Linked DNA regions of Homo sapiens. The protein of the gene in region 4 purifies or fractionates together with the protein of the main gene of each other region. This does not show direct contact. Each region holds a gene or a part of one and is shown on either strand. Other genes may lie near its edges.

The links.
Region 1: the proteins of AHCY (region 4) and ATIC fractionate together in Homo sapiens (co-fractionation; one large-scale study listed by BioGRID). This does not show direct contact.
Region 2: the proteins of AHCY (region 4) and BLVRA fractionate together in Homo sapiens (co-fractionation; one large-scale study listed by BioGRID). This does not show direct contact.
Region 3: the proteins of AHCY (region 4) and TBCE fractionate together in Homo sapiens (co-fractionation; one large-scale study listed by BioGRID). This does not show direct contact.

What each region holds. Positions count from the first base shown.
Region 1 is NC_000002.12:215,332,559-215,336,058, reverse strand, and holds part of ATIC (bifunctional purine biosynthesis protein ATIC), read right to left. Parts: intron 2,710-3,500; coding exon 2,602-2,709; intron 1,141-2,601; coding exon 1,055-1,140; intron 25-1,054; coding exon 1-24. UniProt on the Homo sapiens protein: Bifunctional enzyme that catalyzes the last two steps of purine biosynthesis.
Region 2 is NC_000007.14:43,793,180-43,796,679, reverse strand, and holds part of BLVRA (biliverdin reductase A), read right to left. Parts: intron 1-3,500. UniProt on the Homo sapiens protein: Reduces the gamma-methene bridge of the open tetrapyrrole, biliverdin IXalpha, to bilirubin with the concomitant oxidation of a NADH or NADPH cofactor. Does not reduce bilirubin IXbeta.
Region 3 is NC_000001.11:235,429,927-235,433,426, forward strand, and holds part of TBCE (tubulin-specific chaperone E), read left to right. Parts: intron 1-778; coding exon 779-878; intron 879-3,019; coding exon of another isoform or gene 3,020-3,172; exon of another isoform or gene 3,173-3,306; intron 3,307-3,500. UniProt on the Homo sapiens protein: Tubulin-folding protein; involved in the second step of the tubulin folding pathway and in the regulation of tubulin heterodimer dissociation.
Region 4 is NC_000020.11:34,283,062-34,286,355, forward strand, and holds part of AHCY (adenosylhomocysteinase), read right to left. Parts: intron 2,574-3,294; coding exon 2,379-2,573; intron 1-2,378. UniProt on the Homo sapiens protein: Catalyzes the hydrolysis of S-adenosyl-L-homocysteine to form adenosine and homocysteine. Binds copper ions.

The sequences.
Region 1 (3,500 bases), on a different chromosome or scaffold from region 4:
TGGGGCAATTATACCATCAGATACCTGCAAAAATATTAAATTTTAATTTCTATTTTTAAAAATCAGAGAACACCTCTTAAAAAAATCTAGCAGCAATTATCAGTCTTAAATAATGTGGCAGCATATTCTGGTTTCTGCCTCCAACAAACAATGCTAACGCTATACTTGAAAAGAGAAATCTATTAGAATACAGCTTTCTGTATAGCAGATCCTAACTTTCTGTCCTCTCCAAGTTTTTGTTCGTTTCAGTTTAAACTAAGAAAATATGACTGATTTGCTCTTAACACATGTACCTCAGGAGGAAATATTTCTTCAGGGAGTGTTTTGAATGAGCAAGAGCACATTCTAGTCCTGACTCTCCTAGTACATGGTTAAATGACCTCTTCCGGCAAGGCGTTTTCCTTAACAGCAAGACCAGATTAAATCAGAGATTTGACATGACGAAAGATACAAATGTCACAGCCCTCCTGTAACCTGTAACCCAGGGATGGCAGTGGCCATGGAAAGAATCCTAAAGCAACAAAATAGTGCCAAGCCACATGCTCCTTCAGCCTTCACCTCTGCTTATTTTTTTCCCCTTTCTGAGCTATTTAATCTTTTTCTCTTTTCTTCCTGTCTTCCTACTACCAACAGTACCCCCACCTGTCTGGAATACCTGTTTGGTATTCAACTGATGGGGTAAGTTTATTAATGTAGTTTCTGTTTTTTACCCACTATGCAGTAAGATGGATTATATCGCATCACCACCTAAAATTACAACTTCTGCTCTTCAGAAACAGTAACTTTGGCATGAAGACAACAAAGAATTTAAAATAAATATATAAGTAAAAAACATCATAACAGCCAAATATCCATCTGAAACAATAATTCACTACATTTCAAAATTAACAATTTAAGATTAATGTTCTATTTAAAATATGAACATTAAATGATAAACTTAGCTAATTAAAAGATATTATAAATATAAATATTATAGGTTATGGTTTCAATTAACATTATGAACAAATAAAGCTTTATTCAACACACAGATTAAGATACATGAATGTCCACTAACTTCTCTGGAAATAATTTTTGCAGTTGGTACATCACAAACATCGGACAATGCAACAAAATCACCAAATGAAGACATCCTATCAGCCCCTGTAAATAAAATTAAAATGAGGTATTTATCACAAAGTATCCTGATACAGAAAAAGTAATAAAATTCTCCACTGTCATATAAAATTCATTACTCTAAAGCTAATCTTACTGTTTACATAAGATTTTAACAGATCAATAAGTCATTTAACTGAAGTAACCAGTAAGAAAGTATTCTTTAATTTTACCCTCTAGAGTGACACTCAGAAAACTTTTTCTGTGAAGGACCAATTTATATATACTATATTCACAAAAACAGGGTGGCAGGCTGGATTCAGCTGAAGTTGCTGACCACTGCTGTAGATGATAAACTATGGTAATAGTTTCTCAAGAACTTTCAGAAATACTAAAGGGATATTCATGGGTTATTAAATTCAACAAGTAAATGTCTCTGATAAAACATGACTCTAACCAAATGTAGTAAAGTTAGAAGAGCCATAAATCACGCCTGTAATCCCAGCCCTCTGGGAGGCTGAGGCAGGTGAATCACTTGAGGTCAGGAGCTCAAGACCAGCCTGGCCAACATGGTGAAACCATGTCTCTACTAAAAATACAAAAAAATTAGCCAGGTGTGGTGGCACGCACCTGTAATCCCAGCTACTCAGGACGCTGAGGCAGGAGAATCGCTTGAACCCAGGAGGTGGAGGTTGCAGTGAGCTGAGATGGCGCCACTGCACTCCAGCCTGGGCAACAGAGCAAGAAGCTGTCTCAAAAAAAAAAAAAAAAAAAAAAGAATAGCTTTTTGTAATTTCAATTTTGGTCACATATTAAACAATAACAAATGCATTCAATAGCCTAAATTAGCAAAATTACATTGACCAAATTCCAATTGTGTTTCCATTTATTACACTAAAATACTAACAAATACTTTTTTTTTTTTGAGACGGAGTATCGCTCTGTCACCCAGGCTGGAGTGCACTGGCGCTATCTTGGCTCACTGCAAGTTCCACCTGCCGGGTTCACACCATTCTCCTGCCTCAGCCTCCTGAGTACCTGGGACTACAGGTACCCCCCACCACGCCCAGCTAATTTTTTGTATTTTTAGTAGAGACGGGGTTTCACCGTGTTAGCCAGGATGGTCTCGATCTCCTGACCTCGTGATCTGCCCGCCTCAGCCTCCCAAAGTCCTGGTACTACAGGCGTGAGACATTGCGCCCGGCCTAAAATACTAACATACACTTTTATAAAGAAATGTATTTTGAGGTACTCACAGAATCAATCTCAAATATTAATAAAACAAATTAAATAGGAAATCCTATAATGAAACAAAGGGTATTTTACTTTAATCAAACTATATTATATAGAATAACTGTATATTTACATAGAGATAGAAGTCCTTAATTTCATCTATATATTATACAGAATATCTATATATTTTTTCTTTATTCTATCCTCTTTATTCTATTTAGGATAAAATATTGCTTTTTCTTTCTCCCCCAAATCAAAAAGCCCTATGAGTCTGACCTCTTGCTCTTGCATATGCCGCTGAGATGGGTGTGAGGGTTTTATAGAGATCATAAACCATGCAGACTTTGGCCTCATCTTCACTGAGTGGAATTCCAACAGCAGCACCTGGTTAGAAAATAGTAAAATCATAAACAAAGAAAGCTAAAGTTACTACCTGTCAACTCCTAAATCAAGACAGTTTTCTTAACACCCAGTCTACGCAGCACATTTTCTAGTGCCTGTGCTAAATTAAACAGAAATCTATTTAGCCAGATAATTATACACTAAAAATATGGTTGTGGGAGCAGTGTGAGGGAAATCTCCTCTCTGCCCTCCAAAACCACAGAGCCACTGAAGCCTGACAGTACCCAGCGTGTAGGTGAAGCTCGTTTACTTCATTACTGACTCACTCTTTCTCTCTGTTCTGCTTGATATCACTTTGATATCACACATCATTTATTTCTTCCCCACTCACATCACTTTAACACCCAATAAACACCTGAGAACAAATCATGTGCTGGAGGACTGTCAGCAAGATGTGGTGTACAGACAACTCAATTGCGGAGTTCATGATTTAAACACAGAAGCAAAGTATCTCATACAACGACTATAAGAAGTTTCAGATAAAGAGTCCAAAGAAGAACTTCTTTATGTTTACTCCATTACATTTTCAAAGATGTGGCACAAGACTTAGTCTATTGCATTAGGACATTTCACTTTTATTTTCTAAACTTTTATGGTTCCACCCCACAAACAAATTCCTGCCTCATTTTCCTGACAATATTACACAATTCTGTGTGTGTGTGTGTATCAGATTTTATATTATTACATTGATACTGTTATCAACAGATGACTTTCAGATTTCATAGCATGTCTATATTCACATTAGAACTTGTTAATATTCAAAAAAATTTAAG
Region 2 (3,500 bases), on a different chromosome or scaffold from region 4:
GCCTGTGTTTTTGATGTCGTATGTAAGACATTATTGCCAAATCCAATATCTTGATGCTTTCCCATGTTTTCTTCTAACAATATTACAGTTTTAGGTCTTAAATTTAGTTCTTTAATCCATTTGAGTGAATTTTTTATATGGTGTAAGGTAAGTGTCCAACTTCATTCTTTTGCATGTGGATATCCTGTTTTCCTGGGACCACTTTTTGAAGAGACTGAAACACTTGGTAGAATTCTCCAGTGAAGCCATCTGGTTTTAGGCTTTTCTTTATTGGGAGGTGTTTAATTACTGGTTCAATCTCCTTACTAGTTATAAATCTGTTCAGATTTTTGTTTCTTCATGATTCAGTCTTAGTAGGTTATATGCTACTAGGTATTTATCCCTTTCTAGATTATCCGATTGTTGGAGTATAACAATTGTATAAGTGTTCATTGTAGTCTCATATAATCCTTTTTATTTCAGCAGCATTTGTTGTAATGTCTCCTCTTTCACTTCTGACTTTAGTTTGAGTCTTTACTCTTTTTTTCTTTTCTTTTCTTTTCTTTTTTTTTTTTTTTTGTGAGACAGAGTCTCGCTCTGTTGCCCAGGATGGAGTACAGTGGTGCAATCTCGGCTCACCACAACCTCCCCTCAGCACAACCTCCACCTCCTGGGTTCAAGTGATTCTCCTGTCTCAGCCTCCCGAGTAGCTGGGACTATAGGCATGTGCCACCATGCCTGGCTAATTTTTGTATTTTTAGTAGAGATGGGGTTGCACTATTTTGGCCAGGCAGGTCTTGGACTCTTGACCTTGTGATCTGTCCTCCTTGGCCTCCCAAAATGCTGGGATTACAGGCGTGAGCCACTGCACCCGGCCGACTCTTTTTTTTCTTAATCTGCTAAAATTCTGTCAATTTTATGGATTTTTTTCAAAAAAACTTGGTTTTGTTGATTTTTTTCTATTGCTTTTCTACTCTCTATTTTATTTATGTTCTAATCTTTACTTGCTTTTTTCTGCTAATTTTCGATTGAGTTTGCTCTTCTTTTCCTAGTCCCTTGAAATGTAAAGTTAGGATGTTGAATTGAGATCTTTCTTCTTGTTTAATGTAAGCATTTACAACTATCCACTTCTCTCTTAGTACTGCTTTCATTACATCTTGTCAGTTTTGTATTGTTTTGTTTTGTTTGAGCAGAGTCTCACTCCATCGCCCAGGCTGGAGTGCAGTGGTGCGATCTCCCTCACTGCAACCTCTGCCTCCTGGGTTTAAGCAATTCTCCTGCCTCAGCCTCCCCAGTAGCTGGGACTATATGTGCGCGCCACCACACCTGGCTAATTTTTGTATTTTTAGTAGAGATGGGGTTTCACCATGTTGGCTAGGCTGGTCTTGAAATCCTGACCTCAGGTGATTCGCCCGCCTCAGCCTCCCAAAGTGCTGGGATTACAGGCACAATCTATTTTTATTATTTATTTATGTATGTATTTAATTTCTGAGATGGAGTCTCACTGTGTCGCCCAGGCTAAAGTGCAATGCCACAATCTTGGCTCACTGCAACCTCCACCTCCTGGGTTCAAGCGATTCTCGTGCCTTAGCCTCTGGAGTAGCTGGGATTACAGGCACGTGCCACCAGGCCCAGCTAATTTTTGTATTATTAGTAGAGACGGAGTTTCACCATGTTGCCCAGGCTCCTCTTGAAATCCTGACTTCAGGTGATCCACCAGCCTCGGCTTCCCAAAGTGCTGGGATGACAGGCATGAGCCACCACACCCGACTGCATAATCTATTTTAAACTGCTAACAACTTAACTCAATCACATACAAAATTCTACTCCTTTATATCTCTGACCCCCCATTTTGCTATTAATGTTACCAATTACATCTTTTTATACTATACATCCATTAACATAGTTTGTATTTTTTTGTCTTTTAAATTCTATGCCAGGATTTAAAGTGATATTTATTTATTTAGAGATAGAGTTTCATGGTGTTACCCAGGCTGGAGTGCAGTGGCACCATCTCAGCTCACTGCAACCTCCGCCTCCCAGGTTCAAGCAATTCTGCTGCCTCAGCCTCCTGAGTAGCTGGGACTACAGGCAAGCGCCACCACGCCCAGCTAATTTTTTTATTTTTAGTAGAGATGGGGTTTCACCATGTTGGCCAGGATGGTCTTGAACTCCTGACCTCAAATGATCTGCTTGCCTCGGCCTCCCCAAGTCCTGGGATTACAGGCTTGAGCCACCGTGCCTGGCCTAAAGTGATTTATATGTCAACATTACAATACTACGGAAGTCTGTATTTGTCTATATATTTACCTTTACCAGAGAGCAATATTTTTGTGTTGCTGTCTAGTGTTTTCACTTTAACTTGAAAGACTTCCTTTAGCATTTCCTGTAGGGCAGGTCTAGTAGTGATCAACTCACTTGGTTTTTGTTTGTCTGGGTAGGTCTTTTAAAGAATTTTTATTTTTATTTTTGAGACAGGGTCTCACTCTGTTGCCCAGACTAGAGTGCAGTGGCCCGATCATGGTTCAGTGCAGCCTCAACCTCCTAAGGTTCAGGTGAACTTCCAAGTAGCTGGGACTACCGGTATGCACCACCACACCCAGTTAATTTTTGTATTTTCAGTAGAGATGGGGTTTCACCATGTTGCCCAGGCTGGTCTCAAACTCCTGGGCTCAAATAATCTATCCATCAGAGCCTCCTAAAGTGCTGGGATTACAGGTGTGAGCCACTGTGCCCAGCTGAGTCTTTTTTTTTTTTTCTTGTAATTAAAAATTTTGTATGCCGGGCACGGTCACTCATGCCTGTAATCCCAGCACTTTGGGAGGCCGAGGTGGGTGGATCGCGAGGTCAGGAGTTTGAGACCATTGTGTCCAACATCGTGAAACCCCATCTCTACTAAAAATACAAAAATTAGCTGGGCATGGTGGTGGGCGCCTGTAATCCTAGCTACTCAGGAGGCTGAGGAAGGAGAATCCCTTGAACCCAGGAGGCGGAGGTTGCAGTGAGCTGAGATGGTGCCATTGAACTCCAGCCTGGGTGACACAGCAAGACTCTGTACCCCACCAAAAAAAAAAAAAAAAAAGTTGTAAAAGATTTTTGTAGAAACAGGGTCTCATTATGTTGCCCAGGGTTGTCCCAAGCTCCTTGGCCTCCCAAAGTGCTGGGCTGACAGGGCATGAGCCACTGCGTCTGGCCTGGGAAAGTCTTAATTTCTCCCTTCTGGAGGGTGGTATGGCTTAGGGGAACAAATGTGAACTTAAGAGCCCTGTAGGATTTGATTAAAATCTCTACCTCCCACTTAGTAGTCATGTTATTAGCTTTGTGACCTGGCACAAATTAACTTCTTTGAGCCATATTTTTCTATACAGCATCTAGAGAAAATATATACCTCCAAGGGATTCTAGAAGAATTAAGCAAAATAACATATGAAGTGCTTAGCAGAGTTTCCAAGTTCCTAGCATATACTAAATATTTAATAAATGGTTATTCCTGTTTAGAAACAACAAAAACTACAAACTATG
Region 3 (3,500 bases), on a different chromosome or scaffold from region 4:
AGGCTAGTCTTGAACTCCTGACCTCAGGTGATCCATCTGCCTTGGCCTCCCAAAGTGCTGGGATTACAGGCGTGAGCTACCGTGCCCAGCACAGGTTTCCCCTTTCATTCTTGAACCATTTTTGCATAGACATGTGAGTGTACAGTAAAGCCGGTAGACAGGCCTGAATGAGTTGTGCTCCCAAATAGAGCAAACGGGGGCAATTCAACCCATGGTGTCTCATCTTCTGGAAATACGGGCTTGTGTTTTTTAATAGTATCGTCTTTCAAAGTGACTGTCAGGATTGAATACTTTCTGAGATTAGGGTTTTGAGAAATAATTTAAGGGGCAATAATTTCATCCATCCTCATAGCCAAAGGGCAGACTCTATGTTTAGAGAAGCAAAATTCTAGCCCATGATTCAGTGTATCAGTAAGACTCTGGAGAACGGGACTTTGTTTTGCAGTATCCAGAGCCATATCTTGTGAAGCTGGAAGCTCACCTTGCAAATGCCTGAGTTTTGGGTTTAGGAAGCCTACAGCCGCATACAGGTGCCCTAATCCTGTGAAAGCATCTTTACACAGCTGATACCAAAAAGTTGTATGTTGTAAATGTTAAAAATTAGGTAGTCTTGATTCACTTGAATCATTAAAAAAGTGATTTTTAAAATATAATTCCATTTTAAGATTGAAACAAATCAAACCCCTTAGATTAAAACCCAGATTGTTGCTTTCAACAACTATTTCAGTTGGGTTTACTGTATAGAAATAAGTACATTGTATCTTTTTTTTCTACACAGTGAAAATAAACTAAAATTTCCCTCCGGTTCAGTATTAACTGGAACGCTTTCTGTACTGAAGGTTTTAGTCCTCAATCAAACAGGAATAACGTGGGCTGAGGTAATCATATTTCTTTGTTTTATTACACATTAATAAGCAATTAAAAATGTTTGGTTTAATAGAGAATTGTTAGTACAGTTTAATAGTACAACTGTGGCTTCATTTAAATCATCCCAGTATCTATTAATAGATAACAAGATTCATTAAAGTGCCTTATAAAAACGAGTTAAAAGAGCATCATAGTTGAGTTTTGCATCTGGAAATCCATGTCCTATCTCAGCTCATTTTGACTTGTTCTGGTGCCTTTATAAACAGTGGCGCTCCGTTATGGTATGAACCAGTATGTGCTGAGCTTCAAAAAGCCGTAGTGTTGGCTATTGACTAGCTTCCTGAGTTTTCCTGTTAGTTTTTTTTAGAACAGAAGCCAAGCAGCAGAAAGGTTCTCACATACTTTTCTTGTTAGAAGTTCGGCTCTTGGAATCCACTGTTCATTTTATACAGCCGGGCTCAAAAGTAGACTTGTGGGTCCTTGGCACAGCAGCATTTGGGACTTATATCTGGCAGTACTATTTCCTGTCTGAGGTGTACTGACTTCACACACCCAGAGCATTCCACTTTCTTTTTTTTTTTTTTTGAGACGGAGTTTTACTCTTGTTGCCCAGGCTAGAGTGCAATGGTGCAACCTTGGCTCACTGCAACCTTTGCCTCCCAGGTTCAAGCGATTCTCCCACCTCAGCCTCCCAAGTAGCTGGGATTACAGGCATGTGCCATCACACCCAGCTAATTTTGCATTTTTAGTAGAGACATGGTTTCTCCATGTTGGTCAGGCTGGTCTCGAACTCCTGACCTCAAGTGATTTGCCCGCCTCGGCCTCCCAAAGTGCTGGGATTAGAGGTGTAAGCCACCGTGCCCAGCCCACTTTCATTTTTATTTATTTATTTTTCTTGAGACAGAGTCTCACTCTGTTGCCCAAGGTGGAGTGCAGTGGCGCAATCTCGGCTCACTGCAACCTCCGCCTCCCAGGTTCAAGTGATTCTTCCGCGTCAGCCTCTCAGGTAGCTGGGATTACAGGCATGTACCACCATGCCCAGCTAATTTTGTATCTTTAGTAGAGACAGAGTTTCTCCATGTTGGTCAGGCTGGTCTCGAACTCCTGACTTCAGGTGATCCACCCACCTCGGCCTGCTAAAGTCCTGGGATTACAGGCGTGAGCCACCGTGCCCAGCCCACTTTCATTTTTATTTATTTATTTTTCTTGAGACAGAGTCTCGCTCTGTTGCCCAAGTTGGAGTGCAGTGGCATGATCTCGGCTCACTGCAACCTCCGTCTCCTGGGTTCAAGCAATTCTCCAGCCTCAGCCTCCAAAGTAGCTGGGATTACAGGCGCTTGCCACCATGCCCAGCTTATTTTTGTATTTTTAGTAGGGACAGGGTTTCACCATGTTGGCCAGGATGGTCTTGAACTCCTGACCTCAAATGATCTGCCTGTCTCAGCCTCCCAAAATGCTGGGATTACAGGCGTGAGCCACTGTGCCCAGCTTGGGCATTCCACTTTCAAACCAAGGGTGTAGAAATACATTCCCAGCCATGTTCACCCAGGAAGTGCCACAGAGGCCACTCAGTGAGAGACAGGTGGGCCCCTTGTGCCCTTAATATGCCCGTGGCCATGGAGCCTCTTTCCTAGGGCCCCTCCTCTGTGAGGCGCTTACTCCCTCTCAAGGTGTAGATGTAGCTGGAAGACAAGAAGGGGCCAGACACTGGCACTGGGGCTCACACCTGCAATCCCAGCGCTTTGGGAGGCTGAGGTGGGAGGATCACTTGAGCCCAGGAGTTTGAGGCTGCAGTGAGCTAGGATTGCACCTTTGCACTCCAGCCTGGGTGACAGAGCAAGACGCATCTCACCCTCCAAATAAACTAGGAAGGGCACACAGAAATTGAAGTGGTGGAGATGGCAGTAAAGTTCCAGTGAGAAAATTTAGAAATAGTTGGTGAGGCTGGTCATGGTGGCTCTCGCCTATAATTCCAGCCAGCACTTTGAGAGGCCCAGGCAGGAGAATCACTTGAGGCCAGGAGTTCAAGACCCACCTAGGCAACATAGAGAGATCCTGTAGATGCTATATATATATTATATATTATTATACATAATTATATAATATATAATAATTTTTTGTAATTTTTTTTTTTGTAAAAAAAAAAAATTAGGCTCATGCGCAGTGTGGTGGCAGCAGGCACGGTCTCGACATGCAGAAAGACGCCAGCAAGTTCGTGGATCTGTGCGTGCTGCAGAAATGCTCCACCAGCAACTGCATCATCAGTGCCAAGGACCACACATCCATGCGGATGAACGTGGCCAAGGCCAGTGAGGTCACGGGCAGGTTTAACAGCCAGTTTAAAACCTGTGCTATCTGCAGGACTGTTTGCAGGATGGGTGAGTCAGATGATTCCATTCTCTAATTGGCCATGGCCAAGGGCGTCATCTCAACTATTTGGTTTTTGAGATGGAGTCTTGCTCTGTTGCCTAGGCTGGAGTGCAGTGGTGTGATATTGGCTCACTGCAACCTCTGCCTCCTGGGCCAAAATGATTCTCCTGCGTCAGCCTCCCAAGTAGCTGGGATTACAGACGTGCACTACCACGCCTGGCTAATTTTTTGTATTTTTAGTAGAGATGGGTTTTCACCACGTT
Region 4 (3,294 bases):
ACAGTAGGACCAGGGCCCAGCCTAGAACTGAGTCCACGTCAGTTCCAGAGGTAGAACGATGGCCTCCAACCCCCACAGTACACATTGAAATCAACCTTCTGCTTGGCCCGGACTAGCCCAGAACTTTTCCTTCTCCCAGCACCCTGAACCAGAAGGTGTGTGTCACGTCCTAAGGTCAACACCTTGGACAGACAGAGCTAGGTTCTATTCCTGGCCTGATACTTAACATCTGTGAGAGCAAGTCGGTCTCTACACCTGACTTTCCCCATTCGCAGGATGGATGGATCACTCATCTCTCAAGGCTGTTACAAAGATCAGTGCTACTCAGAGTCATTCGTGCAGTAGGTGACTTAATAAATGGTGGCTGCCTTCTCTGTCATTGTTGACCAAGGTACCTAGTCCCTTGCCTGCATACAGCATGTGAGGCATGATGCCAAGAGTGTCCTGTCCCCAAGCCACATGTTAGCAATGATGAAGAAAAGTGGTAAGGACAGGGTCAGGTGCTGAGGCGGGAGCTTTGCCTCTTTCACTTCCAACCCTGCCCTCATTTCAAAGGCCTGACCAATTTCTCACCAAACTCATAGCCATATTTCTCCCAACTGGGATTAGATGGGGATCAAGTGAGAATCTTTCAACCCCACAACCAGCTGCACAGAACAAGGTATGCCTTGAGGTCCTTATGAGTAAAATGTTTGGTCCAGCAAGACATTGCTCCAGGGAGATTAGTTGTTGGCTGGCCCTGGAGGCAGATGCCCCAGGCCTCTTCCTGCGTCTTCCTCAATTGGTAGAACCAGCCTTTCAAAAGATGAAGGGATGGTATGTAGACCCCATCACAGCTTCTCCAGCAGCAAAAGGCTGGAAGAGCAAGAGCTACTCTTACCATTTAGCTCATAAGGAGACTGAGGATTGGACAGGGTAAGGGACAAAGCAAAGTTCACCTGTAAAACTGCCAAGAAAAGCCAGGACTAAAACATCTGTCCTGACCCCAGGGAAGGGTGGACTGCATGGGGTGTTAGGGTGAGCACTGGATTTCATGTCAGAGGACTTCATCTTCATGAGTATGCAGACCATACAACCATAGTGAGATGCCATGCTTAGGGATGTATCTTTTTTTTTTGAGACAGGGTCTCACTCTGTCACCAGGCTGGAGTGCAGTGGCACAATCTCGTCTCACTGCAACCTCCACCTCCTGGGTTCAAGCAATTCTCCTGCCTCAGCTTCCCAAGTACCTGGGACTACAGGCATGCGCCACCATGCCCAGCTCATTTTTTTGTATTTTTAGTAGAGATGGGGTTTCACCATGTTGGCCAGGCTGGTCTCCAACTTCTGACCTCAAATGATCTGCCCACCTCGGCCTCCCAAAGTGCTGGGATTACAGGTGTGAGCCACCGCGCCTGGCCAGGGATGTATCATCTTATTACAAGGCCACAACGTGCAGCCTGCAGACTGCACTCAGCTTATACACATGTCCAAGTTAACCCACCCAGTTATTTTTTAAATTATAATGAGGCCAGGTGCAGTGGCCGAGGCGGGTGGATCACTTGAAATCAGGAGTTCGAGACCAGTCTGGCCAATATGGCAAAACCCCGTCTCTACTAAAAATACAAAAAAATTAGCCAAGTGTGGTGGCATCTGCCTGTAATCCTAGCTACTCAAGAGGCTGAGGTGGGAGGATTGCTTGAACCCGGCAGGTGGAGGTTGCAGTAAGCCGAGATCACGTCACTGCACTCTAGCCTGGGCAACAGAGTGAGACTCTATCTCAAAAAAATCAAAATCAAAATAAAATTTTAATGAGTTGCCTGTATTTGAAAATCATTTTGTATAGAGATCTTGGTATCTCTGGCTCTCCTGAAAGGTTAGAAGCCCTGGTCAGACGGACCTGGGTTCCTAGGTGGCAACCAGCCCTTTACCCCTTCAGCTCTTCCAGTCCTTGTTCAGCTGGCATCACTCATTTACCTGCCTAGCCCCTGTGGGTGTGTGGGTTCATGATCTCAGGAAATCCTCACAATCCTGAAGGGGGTTGCTATTACCTTCATTTCACAGATGAGAAAATGAAGACAGAGAAAGAATTTGCCTGGATTACACAGCCTGTAAGTGGTGGGGCTGAGATTCAAACTGGGGTGTGTCCCGCTCCAAGGCCCAGGCTCTCCTCACCACCTGGTCCTGCCGCTCTGCTGTGCTCCAGGGAGCCACTCCCTACTGTGGGTCTCAGTTTCTTCTTCTGTCAATGGGGAGAATGACTTCTGCACTGTAGAGGACCCCATGAGGGCCTCTAAGAGGGCAGACAGGCAAGCACTTTATAAACTCTGGCAAGCCCTGTGTGGGGATCCCAGGATTAGACACGTGACCCTTGGCTTGAGGTAGAAGAATAAACCCACCTTCTTGGGCAGGAAATGAACCCCAACGGGGTACTTGTCTGGATGGGTCCACAGCTCGATCTGCGCCATCACCTGGTTGGTGAAGGAGTTACTCATCACGAAGCTGGGGTGGCCCATGGCACAACCCAGGTTGACCAGCCGACCCTCGGCCAGCAGGATGATGCGGCGCCCATTCTTCAACCGATACCGGTCCACCTACACGCAGGCAGGGCAACAGTGAAGGCAGGCAGGGCCCCGCTCCCACAGCCCACCCTCTGATCTGGCAGGCCTCTCTGCCTCCAACAGTGCCCATGAGGAGTCCGAACTGCTCCAAAACAACCTCCAGCACATGGCTTAGCACAAAAATAACAGCCAATATTTATTAAGAAATGTTGAGCTGGCCGGGGCACGGTGGCTCACGCCTGTAATCCCAGCACTTTGGAAGGCCGAGGCAGGCGGATCATGAGGTCAGGAGATCGAGATTATCTTGGCCAACACAGTGAAAGCCCGTCTCTACTAAAAAAAAAATACAAAAAATTAGCCGGGCGTGGTAGCAGGCGCCTGTGGTCCCAGCCACTCGGGAGGCTGAGGCAGGAGAATGGCGTGAACCTGGGAGGTGGAGTTTGCAGCGAGCCGAGATCGCACCACTGCACTGCAGCCTGGGCGACGGAGCGAGACTCTGTCTCAAAAAACAAAAAACAAAAAAACAACAAAGAAATGCTGAGCTGCAGACTGCACAGTTCTGCTGTGAGAACTTCACGTGCTCACACTTGCTTGGCGCATATGAGGCACTCAGTAAGCAGCAGCTAATGTTATCGTTATGATCACTGTCATGTGCCCTGTACTAAGTCCTTTACAGGTAACTACCACATTTCATCCCAGAAACAACCCTGTGATTTCAGTACTGCTGTCATCCCCATTTCAGATTCAGAAACTG